Regions from separate parts of the Homo sapiens genome. Here region 1 is linked to region 2. Evidence: fine-mapped expression QTL. A gene starts in region 2. The other region holds a variant in brackets. All regions are shown on one strand. Distances are between the middles of the regions. Region 1 overlaps PASK (PAS domain containing serine/threonine kinase). Region 2 holds the start of MTERF4 (mitochondrial transcription termination factor 4).

Region 1 (5,252 bases), 29 kb after region 2:
CTCAGTTCTGGCCAGCATGCAGTCAGGGCATGAAGGATGTGATCTGCCGACTGCACACAGGCCTTGAGCTGCTGGGACCTCAACCCAGGGCAGCCCCAGGGACCGTAGGTCCTCCAGTGGGGAAGCACCAGGACCTGACCCCCGTGGAGACCCGAGACCCCCACCTGCTGTCTGAGCACATCACCTGGGGTCTCTTCGAGGACCTGATGCCCAGTGTAACAATTCACTCAGCTTCAGCATCCATTTGCTAAAAATCAGACTACACTCCCAGGATTACCAGGAGAACTAAAGGAGACAACTTACGAGGAAGCACCCAACGTAGTCCCTAAAACACAAAAGCACTCCGTACAGCTCACCTCCTTCCTTCATGCTTCCTAACCCTGTTCTGTCTTACTGTTTCAGCTTATTGTCCTGACCAGACTACAATTCTTAGGGACACACCCCAAGTCTTCTGTAATGCTTATTTGTTGAATAAGCGAACGAGTGAGTGAATGACTGAGCGGGGAATGAATGGATAAATCTCTATAGTCATAACTGCACTAGCTGTGCAGTGGATGCTAATCAAACTCTCAGAACTGTGACATCCAGAAACGTCCAATGCAATAGAAAGACTAGGAATTGGCTGATCTTGGGCAACTCCCTTGGTACCACCAAGTCCTGGAAGATGAGTTGTGTCCAAGGTCCTGAGGATAGCAACGGGCCACGTGGCCTCTGTCCACCAAGATGTCCCAGACAACGGGAGCACTGGCAAGGGGGCCCGGCCGCTAGTGCTGTTGAGCACCCACGGGTCAGACTTGGGCCCTCAACCACGGCCGCCCCACTTCAGCTTGGTGGCACCTCTGGAGAGGTGCGCACAGCAATATTATTCATAGTAATATTGAAAACTCACGTGTTGAGCGCCTGCTCTGTTCCACTCGCAGTGGAAGTAGAGCAAATAGAGCCAACAGCTACCCTCTCACGCCACTCAACGCGGACCCACAGTGGCAAAGGGAAAATCAGGGAGGCTAAGCAAACAAGAGAAAGCACCGGCACATCGGCCAGTGGGAAAGTGGCCCATGAGCTAGGGTGCCATCCAGGAGGCTTCGGTTCCGAGGAGGCCTGTAGAGGAAGATCTGCAGGACATGTGTGTGCGTACACATACACACACATTTAGGACACTGTGTATGGTATAATCCCAGCCGTGCTCAGGGAACAGAAGCAGTTACATGTGAGCACACATATGCACATGCACACATAGAAGTATAATATACAACTATAGTTAAATGCACAAGAAAGAAGGCCTGGAAGGCTCTAACTGCTGACTGCGGTCCCCTGGGGGAAAGAGTAGGATTGGAGGAGGGGGATTGGAAGACGGCCAGGGGAACTATTGCTTTTACCATTATTCTTCTATAATTAAAAAAACACATATGCATGTATTACATTTTTTTTTTTTTTTTGAGACGGAGTCTCACTCTGTCGCCCAGGCTGGAGTGCAGTGGCGCGATCTAGGCTCACTGCAAGCTCCGCCTCCCAGGTTCACACCATTCTCCTGCCTCAGCCTCCCGAGTAGCTGGGACTACAGGCGCCCGCCACCATGCCTGGCTAATTTTTTGTATTTTTAGTAGAGACGGGGTTGCACCGTGTTAGCCAGGATGGTCTCCATCTGCCGACCTCATGATCCACCCACTTCAGCCTCCCAAAGTGCTGGGATTATAGGCGTGATCCACCGCGCCTGGCCCATGCATTACATATTTTTAAACATACATACATACTTTATATGTATCTATTACATATTTTTTAAATAATTTCAAGACTAGAAAACACAACTATGTGGATAAATATCACAGACACAGCAATAAGCAGAAGGCAGACAGAAGGAAATGCATGCGTCAGGCTCAACGGCAGGCAGTCTAACCTCTGCCCTGACCCAGGGCAGCAGGGTGTAGGGGGCACAGTGCAGGAAGGGACCCAGGG[T/A]CTGCAGGCAGCCAAGAAAGGGTCCTGGGCCACCTGGGCACCTACAGTTTGGGCACCTTTACTGCATGCTGTGCATAAGAAAAGATTCTGGGTCAGGTATGGTGGCTCACACCTGTAATCCCAGGACTTTGGGAGGCCAAGGCGGGTGGACCATGAGGTCAAGGGATCGAGACCAGTCTGGCCAACATAGTGAAACCCCGCCTCTAGTAAAAATACAAAAATTAGCCGGGCGTGGTGGCAGGTGCCTGTAGTCTCAGCTACTCAGGAGGCTGAGGCAGGAGAATCACTTGAACCAGGGGGCAGAAGTTACAGTGAACCAAGATCACGCCACTGCACTCTAGCCTGGGCAGCTGAGTGAGACTCCATCTCAAAAAAAAAAAAAAAAAAAAGATTCCGAAGAAGAAAATGGGTTAAAAATACACACACACGTGCTATGTACAATACGACTATGAGAATAGAACAAGTTTTTATTTCTACTTTTCCAAATGTTCCTAATTCTCTAATATAAACTTTCTTTACTCTAAATAGAATATTTTAAAATGTGCAAAGAGAACAGCTTCATATGACTTTGAAAATGATAAAATTAATCCCAGCACTTTGGGAGGCCAAGGCGGGTGGATAACAAAGTCAGGAAATCGAGACCATCCTGGCCAACATGGTGAAACTAAAAAAAATACAAAAAAGTAACCGGGCGTGGTGGCGGGCGCCTGTAGTCCCCAGCTACTCGGGAGGCTGAGGCAGGAGAATGGTGTGAACCCGGGAGGCGGAGCTTGCAATGCAATGAGCAATGAGCTGAGATCGCACCACTGCACTCCAGCCTGGGTGACACAGCGAGACTCTGTCTAAAAAAAAAAAAAAAAAAAAAAAAAAAGAAAATGATAAAATTATGATTCCATCAGTTCTCTGAAATCTACCTCAACATTCTGGAACTCTCCACAGCCTGTTTCCTTATCCCTACAGTGAGACAGTAACACCATGGTGCCCTCCCATACAGGCTGATAAGGACTCAGCCAGGCAGCACAGAAAACCCAGCAGTCAGTGTGTGTGGAAGAGAGCAGGTGCTCAACACATGTGAGTTTTCAATGTTACTATGAATAATAGGCTGAACATTTCTCTCTGACTTGTTCCTCATTCACCTACCATCTGTCTGGACTTTTAGTAAACCTGCAACCTCCCACCAAGGGACTTACCCTGGAGCAGGCTGAGGTGAGAGGCAGGAAAGGAGCTGGCCTCCAGCAATCAGCTCAGTCTGAGTCCCGGTGAAGATGTCTTGGCTTTCCATCAGCTTCCGGATCTCATCTCGGGGCACAACGTGGCCACCAGCAAGCACGACATTAATCCTTGGATCTGGCAGCAACACCAAAAAAGAGCGTTTGCTCTTCACAGGCACTCCCTAAAACGAATCTGCTCATTCGCCTGGAACTCACTGAGACTGCTTCACAGCATGACCAGCATCGACCACCTCTCACCACCCCAGGCGTCCCAGGTCCAACCCAGCGCCCTCTTCTCTGCCTCCTGTCTCCCTGCTCCTTGGCCCAGGACACCTGCAGCCAGCTACCATGATCCTATTAACACCCAAGTCAGAGCACGGCACTCACCTGCTGACAACCCTCCAACAGCTCCCATCTGACTCTGGATAGAAGCCGAAGTCTCGGCCATGGCCCCCCAACTCTGTGGCCTCACTCCTCCAGGTCTCTCCACCTGGCCTCCCTGCCATATCTGAAGTATTAGAGGCCTTGGGATCATGGCTCCTGATCCCAGAAATGCTGTACCTGGGTATCTACAAGGCTTCCCTAGGCCTCCTGGGACCCCAAGCCTAAGACTGCATGCCCTCTTCCCCTCTTTGCCTTCCTCCCGAGCTCTGGCCACTTCCTGGGCTCCATGTCACCTGGCTCCCTCCAGTCCCCGTGAGCGCAGGGGCATCTGCACGCAGTGCAGCCTGGCACGTGGTAGGGGATGAATGTATGTCTCTTGGTTACATGAGAGAAAGCAGCCTGCATTAGGAAGGACCCTGGGAGGCCACGCACAGTGGCTCACACCTGTAATCCCAGCACTTTGGGAGACCGAGGCGGGCAGATCACCTGAGGCTGGGAGTTCGAGACCAGCCTGACCAACATGGAGAAACCCCGTCTCCACTAAAAACACAAAATTAGCCAGGCATGGTGCTACATCCCTGTAATCCCAGCTACTCGGAAGGCTGGGACAGGAGAATCACCTGAACCCAGGAGGCAGAGGTTGCAGTGAGACGAGATGGTGCCACTGCACTCCAGCCTCAGCAACAAGAGCGAAACTCTGTCTCAAAAAAAAAAAAAAAAAAGGACGACCCCAGAAAGAACCCTAGCCCCAAGCCGAGAGAAGCCTGCTCTGTGACCAGGACAGTTGGGTGGTTCGGCATAACTTCTCCAAGAGGCATTTTTGACAGTAACTAGCAAACGTGTTCATTCCCTGAATCCAGAAGTTCCACTTCTAAGAATTCATCCTAAGGAAACAATGCGAGAGTAACAGAAATGTGATCCCCTCCCCCCACCACCAAATATCCGACAAACAGCATGTACTCAACACAGGCATGCATGCACAGGTCAGAATTTGGAATTCTGGAAAAAGGGGAAGGGGAATATAATTAGTGCTAGAGGAAAAAGCTTGTATAAAGGACAGACTGAGATAGAAAAACCCAGATACAATGAAGGGAACCACATGCTAAGGAAAGCCGGGATTGTAAGGAGAACCAACAGCCTAACAAAGTATCTTTTAAAACAAATGTTACAATCCAGCTTCTAATGCCCCAGGCGAGACCCTGTGGGGAAGGAGGCTGGGCGCATGTGCCAAAGAACTCACACAATGCCCAGACAGCTAAAGAGTGTCTGACGGTAAATGTTTATCTCACCAGGCTGGTCAGTCTCGTGAAGCTGTAGTTTTTCTCAGTGACTGTATTAAATCCACTTTCGCACTCATTCGATACCCGAGTGACCGCATGCAGGACAACCTCGCAAGCCAGCACCTGCCGACCCGCCTGGCCCCACCACGATGCAGAGCCCCGAGGTGGCTGTGCTTTCTGCCAGCACTGGCCACTCTCTCTCTCTCACCCCCACTGTGTCCTTCCATAGAACAGAGACCCCCCCACCTGACACCCCTGCCACACCATCACCTGGACCCTTGGGCCCCAGCCTGCCCCAGGAACTCCAGAACCACACCCAGTGAGCCCACGCTCCAGGTGGGCAGAGGCCCTGGAGGCAGAGTTCCGGGGTCCCCACCAGGGCAGAGCCAGGGACAGGGCGCACCCCCACCCCATGCTTGTCAAC
Region 2 (5,234 bases):
GTGGGATACAGAGTTGGCCCTTGAACAACAAGGGTTTGAACTGCTTGGATCCACTTATATGTGGATTTTCTTCCGCCTCTGCCACCCTTGAGACACCAAGACCAAACTCTCCTTCACCTCCTCTTCAGCCTAAAGACCTTATGAGGATCTACTTCCTCTTAATGAATAGTAAATACATTTTCTCTTAGGATTTTCTTTTTGTTTTTTGAGACGGGGGTCTCACTCTGTTGCCCAGGCTGGAGTGCAGTGGTGCAATCATGGCTCACTGCAGCCTTGACTTCCCCAGGCTGAGGTAATCCTCCCACCTCAGCCTTCTGAGTAGCTGGGACTACAGGTGCACACTACACCCTGCTAATTTTTGTATTTTTTGTAGAGACGGGGTTTTGCCCTTATGATTTTCTGAATAACGTTTTCTTTTCTCTAGCTTACTTTAAGAATACAGAATGCAATATATATATATACAAGATATGTGTTAACTGTTTATGTTGTCGGTAAGGCTTCCAGTCATGAGTAGGCTATTAGTAGTTGAGTTTTGGAGGAGTCAAACGTTATACACTGATTTTCAACTGGTGTGGGGGCGGTCTGGTGCCCCTAACCCCTGTGTTGTTCAAGGGTCACAGTAATTAGTCAACTTGCATACACAATTCCAGTTGACCTCAAAAGTCTTCAGTGGTTCAGGCTGGTGCTTAACAAACTATGCACAAATCATCCAGGCACTCTAAGCCAGCAGTCTTCAACGTTTTTGGCACCAGGGACTGGCTTCATGGAAGACAATTTTTCCACAGACTGGTGAGGGGTTTCAGGATGATTCAAGCATATTACATTTGTTGTGCACTTTATTTCTGTTATTTTCACGTTGTAATATAAGATGAAATAATTATACAACTCACCATAATGTAGAATCACTGGGAGCCCTGAGCTTGTTTTCCTACAACCAGGAGGTGCCATCTGGGGTTGATGGGAAACAGTGACAGATCATCGGGCATCAGATTCTCATAAGGAGCGCAACCTGGACCCCTCAAAGGCGCAGTTCACAATAGGGTTCGCGCTCCAGTGAGAATCTAAGGCGGCTGGTCTGACAGGAGGCGGAGCTCAGGCGGTAATGCCAGCGAAGGGAGCGGCTGTAAATACAGTCTGGCTGGCTCACTTGCCGCTCACCTCCTGCTGTGCAGCCTGGTTCCTAATAGGCAAGGGACGGTACCGGGGGTTGGGGAACCCCTGCTCTAAAACCTTCACATCGGTCCCAACCCCTTCTCCAGCGTCATCGATTGTCGCCCTGGGGCCACCCTGCCAAGCCCAAGCTCTGGCTGCTCTCCAGCCTCCCCTGTCCAGATGCTCCCTCCGCCAGGAACACCTGGCAGTCGCTGGGGTCAGCGGGCGCGGCCCGTGGAACTGGGCTCAAGCCTAAAGACCTCTATGCTGATTCCGCTTCCTCTTAATGAAAAGTACATGTTATCTTCCTTGTGAAGTTCAAACTCTTGTTCAACAGTCAACTCAGGCCGGGCGCGGTGGCTCACGCCTGTAATCCCAGCACTTTGGGAGTTCGAGGCGGGTGGATCACCTGAGGCCAGAAGTTACAGACCAGACTGGCCAACACGGTGAAACCCCGTCTCTACTAAAAATACAAAAATTAGCCAGGCATGGTGGCGGGCGCCTGTAATCCCAGCTACTTGGGAGGCTGAAGCAGTAGAATTGCTTGAACCCGGGAGGCGGAGGTTGCAGTGAGCCGAGATCGCGCCATTGCACTCCAGCCTGGAGACAGAGCGAGACTTTGTCTCAAAAAAAAAAAATGTCAACTCTATATCCCACAATAATTGAGCAGAGCCACGGGTCCAGGATGCCAAAACCAGGTCAGCGTGCACGGACCTCCGGGAGGGCTCCACGACCTGGCCGTGAAACACTCGGCGGCCGCGGTTCCTCTGCGTCGCTGCCCGCCCGCCTGCGACCCGGAGAAGCCCGCGCGCCCAGCTCGAGCTTACCTGACGGCCGAACGCAGCCATAGCGCGGAGAAGATGGCAGCAGTTACGGCGCCGGAAGCAGCGGTCCTCCCCCGTCCTTCACTTCCGGCCCCCGGTCCGTCACCGACGCCGTTCCCAGCGCCAGCGCGGTGTGGTGGATCGTGATTCCGGCCCGGAGCTGTGCTGAGCGTTCACGGCCCCGCGGGGCTCAGGTGTCCCGGGGCCGCCCCTTAGAAAGCCGGAAGGCCGGAGTCGCGCCCGTCACCGTGCCGCCGCCTCTGCCGCGGCCTCAGCCTTCGGGGGCCTCGGTGTCCGGTTGTTCCCGTTGCACTGCCGTGTCCCGTTTCGCAGAGCTCTGGGCCGCGTGAACGAATGGGTCGTCCTGGCCCATACTTGTGTTTCAGATGACCTGAGAATTCCTCTCAAGAGTACAGGTAGAGGGGAACTGGTTCCTTGCTTCGGGAACTTCACCCGAGAGCGCAGAAATCCTTCCCGAGGCAGGAAAAATGGATTCCGTTCCATGTAGAGATATTTAAGATTTTATTGTGTAAAAATCTGTATTCAGCGTGAACACCGGGGCCACCTACGCACAAAAAGAAGTCTTTACCGCTTTTCTTTCTTTTTACTCTCAGCCAGTGGAAGATGAGAATTTGCCGTTTTTAAAAGACCCAAGTAAAATGACAGGAATTACGGCACATTTCCCTTTATAAGCAAGAGCCTTCCCAACTTCGAGGTCTGGTTCCCTCTTAGGATGAAATATAGTAAAGTTTTAGCCCAATGTGTATTCATTCTTAAATTTCCTCTCTCGACCTAAGAGCGTAGGCATCTTTCACAAGGTGATGCTTGTGAAGAATAAAAAGGTGTGCTTTCTCAGCTGCCTAAATCCTGCCACCAAAGCCTTAATTTATAAGCATTTCTTGTTTTATCTACTTCATTCTGGACTGACATAAAGGATTTGATTCTTGCATGGGCACACATTTACATATCTGCTTTGCGCCAGGCATGGAGTGGGGTGCCAAACAATTTATGTAAAACTGTCTTTTGACAAAAGGATTATGTCAAAGAAAAGGAAGGTTCTAATCCGTGTAGAAACTAAAGAATTGGTTGCTTTGGCAGAGTGCAGTGGCCCACGCCTGTAATCCCAGCACTGTGAGAGGCTGAGGTGGGGGGGATTGCCTGGGCTCAGGAGTTCAAGACCAACCTGAGCAACATAGGAAAATCCTGTCTCTACAAAAAATAAAAAATTAGCCGGGAGTAGTGGCGTGCACCTGTAGTCCCAGCTACTCAGGAGCCTGAAGTGGGAGGATCACTTGAGTCCAGGAGGTTGAGGCTGCAGTGAGCCATGATTGCACCACTGCACTCCAGCCTGCGTAACAGAGCAAGACCTTGTCTCAAAAAACAAAAGGAAAAAAAAAATTGGTTGCCTTTGTTGTTTTTTATAATGTAATTTTCTTCTCAAAATACTCAACTGTCAACATCTCACAATAAATTGTGTTAATGCTACACCAAAAGCCTAAGAAAATCCCATGAGCCACCCCAACTCCCTGGAAAGAATCAAGGAACCTGAACAGTTTGTCTAGCTCTAGAAATAAAATGACAGCTGGGACATGGGGATTACTATGAAAAATTGACATGAGCCCGGGTGTGGTGGCTCACGCCTGTAATCCCAGCACTTTGGGAGGCCGAGGTGGGCAGATCACCTGAGGTCAGGGGTTTGAGACCAGCCTGGAAAACATGGTGAAACCCCATCTCTACTAAAAATACAAAAATTAGCCAGGCATGGTGGTGGGCACCTGTAGTGTCAGCTACTCAGGAGGCTGAGGCAGGAGAATCACTTGAACCTGGGAGGCGGAGGTTGCAGTGAGCCAAGATCACGCCATTGTACTGCAGCCTGGGCAACAAAAGCGAAAGTACTTCTCAAAAAAAAAAAAAAAAAATTTGACATCACCTTCAGTCTTGTGTGAAAACTTTGCTCTCTCGAACCATACTTTAAAAATATGCAGTGGGTTGGGCACGGTGGCTCATGCTTGTAATCCCAGCACTTTGAGAGGCTGAGATGGGTGGATCACCTGAGGTCAGGAGTTCGAGACCAGCCTGGCCAATATAGTGAAACCCTGCCTCTACTAAAAATACAAAAATTAGCCAGGTAACGTGATAACGCACACTTGTAATCCCAGCTACTCGGGAGGCTGAGGCAGGAGAATTGCTTGAACCCAGGGAACGGAGGTTGCAGTGAGCCGAGATTGCACCATTGCACTCCAGCCTGGGTGACAGAGCAAGATTCCATCTTAAAAAAAAAAAAAAAAATGGAGTGGAAAAATTGTCAGCCTCAGCCTCAGAACTTTCCTCTCTGGGTTCTTTCTGCAAAGAACGTTTGCAAAATACCAGACCTTCCACTGCCATGAAGTCAGATGAGCTTTAATTATTTTTTCTTATAAAGAAGTAACAGTTCTTAGAAAGCTCAGACTATGCATTCTCAACCCATTAAACACCTGTCTGCAAACACCATTGTGGCCGAACGCAGTGGCTCATGCCTGTAATCCCAACATTTTGGGAGGCCGAGGCGGGCGGATCATGAGGTCAGGAGTTTGAGACCAGCCTGGCCAACATAGTGAAACCTCGTCTCTACTAAAAATACAAAAATTTAGCCAGGCGTGGTGGTGGGCACCTGTAATCCCAGCTACTTGGGAGGCTGAGGCAGAATTGCTTGAACCTGGGAGGCGGAGGTTGCAGTGAGCTGAGATCGCACCATTGCACTCCAGCCCAGGCGACAGTATAAGACTCTGTCTCTAAATAAATAAACAAACAAACAAACACCATTCTATAACATCCTCTGTGTTATAAGCACCATAAACACTACAAGGTAGGGGTTCTTAAAACATCAGAAAACTCTTTGAATTCTGAAGAGTGAACATCACTGACTTTAATACACACCTGTAAAACCCTTGTACCTTGAATGTCCCTGATAGAGGAGGGTCCTCCCCCACCAACTCCATCAGTCACTTGTGGTGGCAGCGAGGCTCAGGCAGCACTTTCTGAAGAAAGGGATGGCAATAGCCCATATCCTACTAGATGGGACTAAAATTAACTCTGATCATCCCAAAACAGTTGAGTGCCTCCTAAATAACCACTAGAAATAGCTCAGAACCACGCAGGAGGCAGCCTGGCTCCCAGGCAGCTTCCAGAGGGTTCTGGGCAGGAGTCTCAGAATGTGGAAAAACCGTCTGCAAGTGATGACATGTGGGAAAAGGGTAGGGGTTTAGGTTTTTGGTTTTT

What was found. PIP is the estimated chance that this variant, and not a neighbour inherited with it, causes the effect. A credible set is the group of variants that fine-mapping cannot tell apart.
Region 1: its variant is the best candidate, but not a certain one, in a credible set for the expression of MTERF4 in whole blood (TOPMed, PIP 0.57).

Annotation. Positions count from the first base shown.
Region 1 is chr2:241,129,731-241,134,982 of GRCh38, forward strand. It overlaps PASK (PAS domain containing serine/threonine kinase), which reads right to left. Exons shown (of 18, transcript NM_015148.4): 9 at 3,144-3,300. Among named protein-coding and RNA genes, the nearest start is that of PASK, 17 kb to the right of the region's middle. RefSeq lists an enhancer at 3,159-3,248. The variant T/A (reference allele first, on the strand shown) is at 1,954.
Region 2 is chr2:241,100,274-241,105,507 of GRCh38, forward strand. MTERF4 (mitochondrial transcription termination factor 4) reads right to left here and starts at 2,014. Exons shown (of 4, transcript NM_182501.4): 1 at 1,980-2,014. The coding sequence starts at 2,000. RefSeq lists enhancers at 1,261-1,800, 1,801-2,340.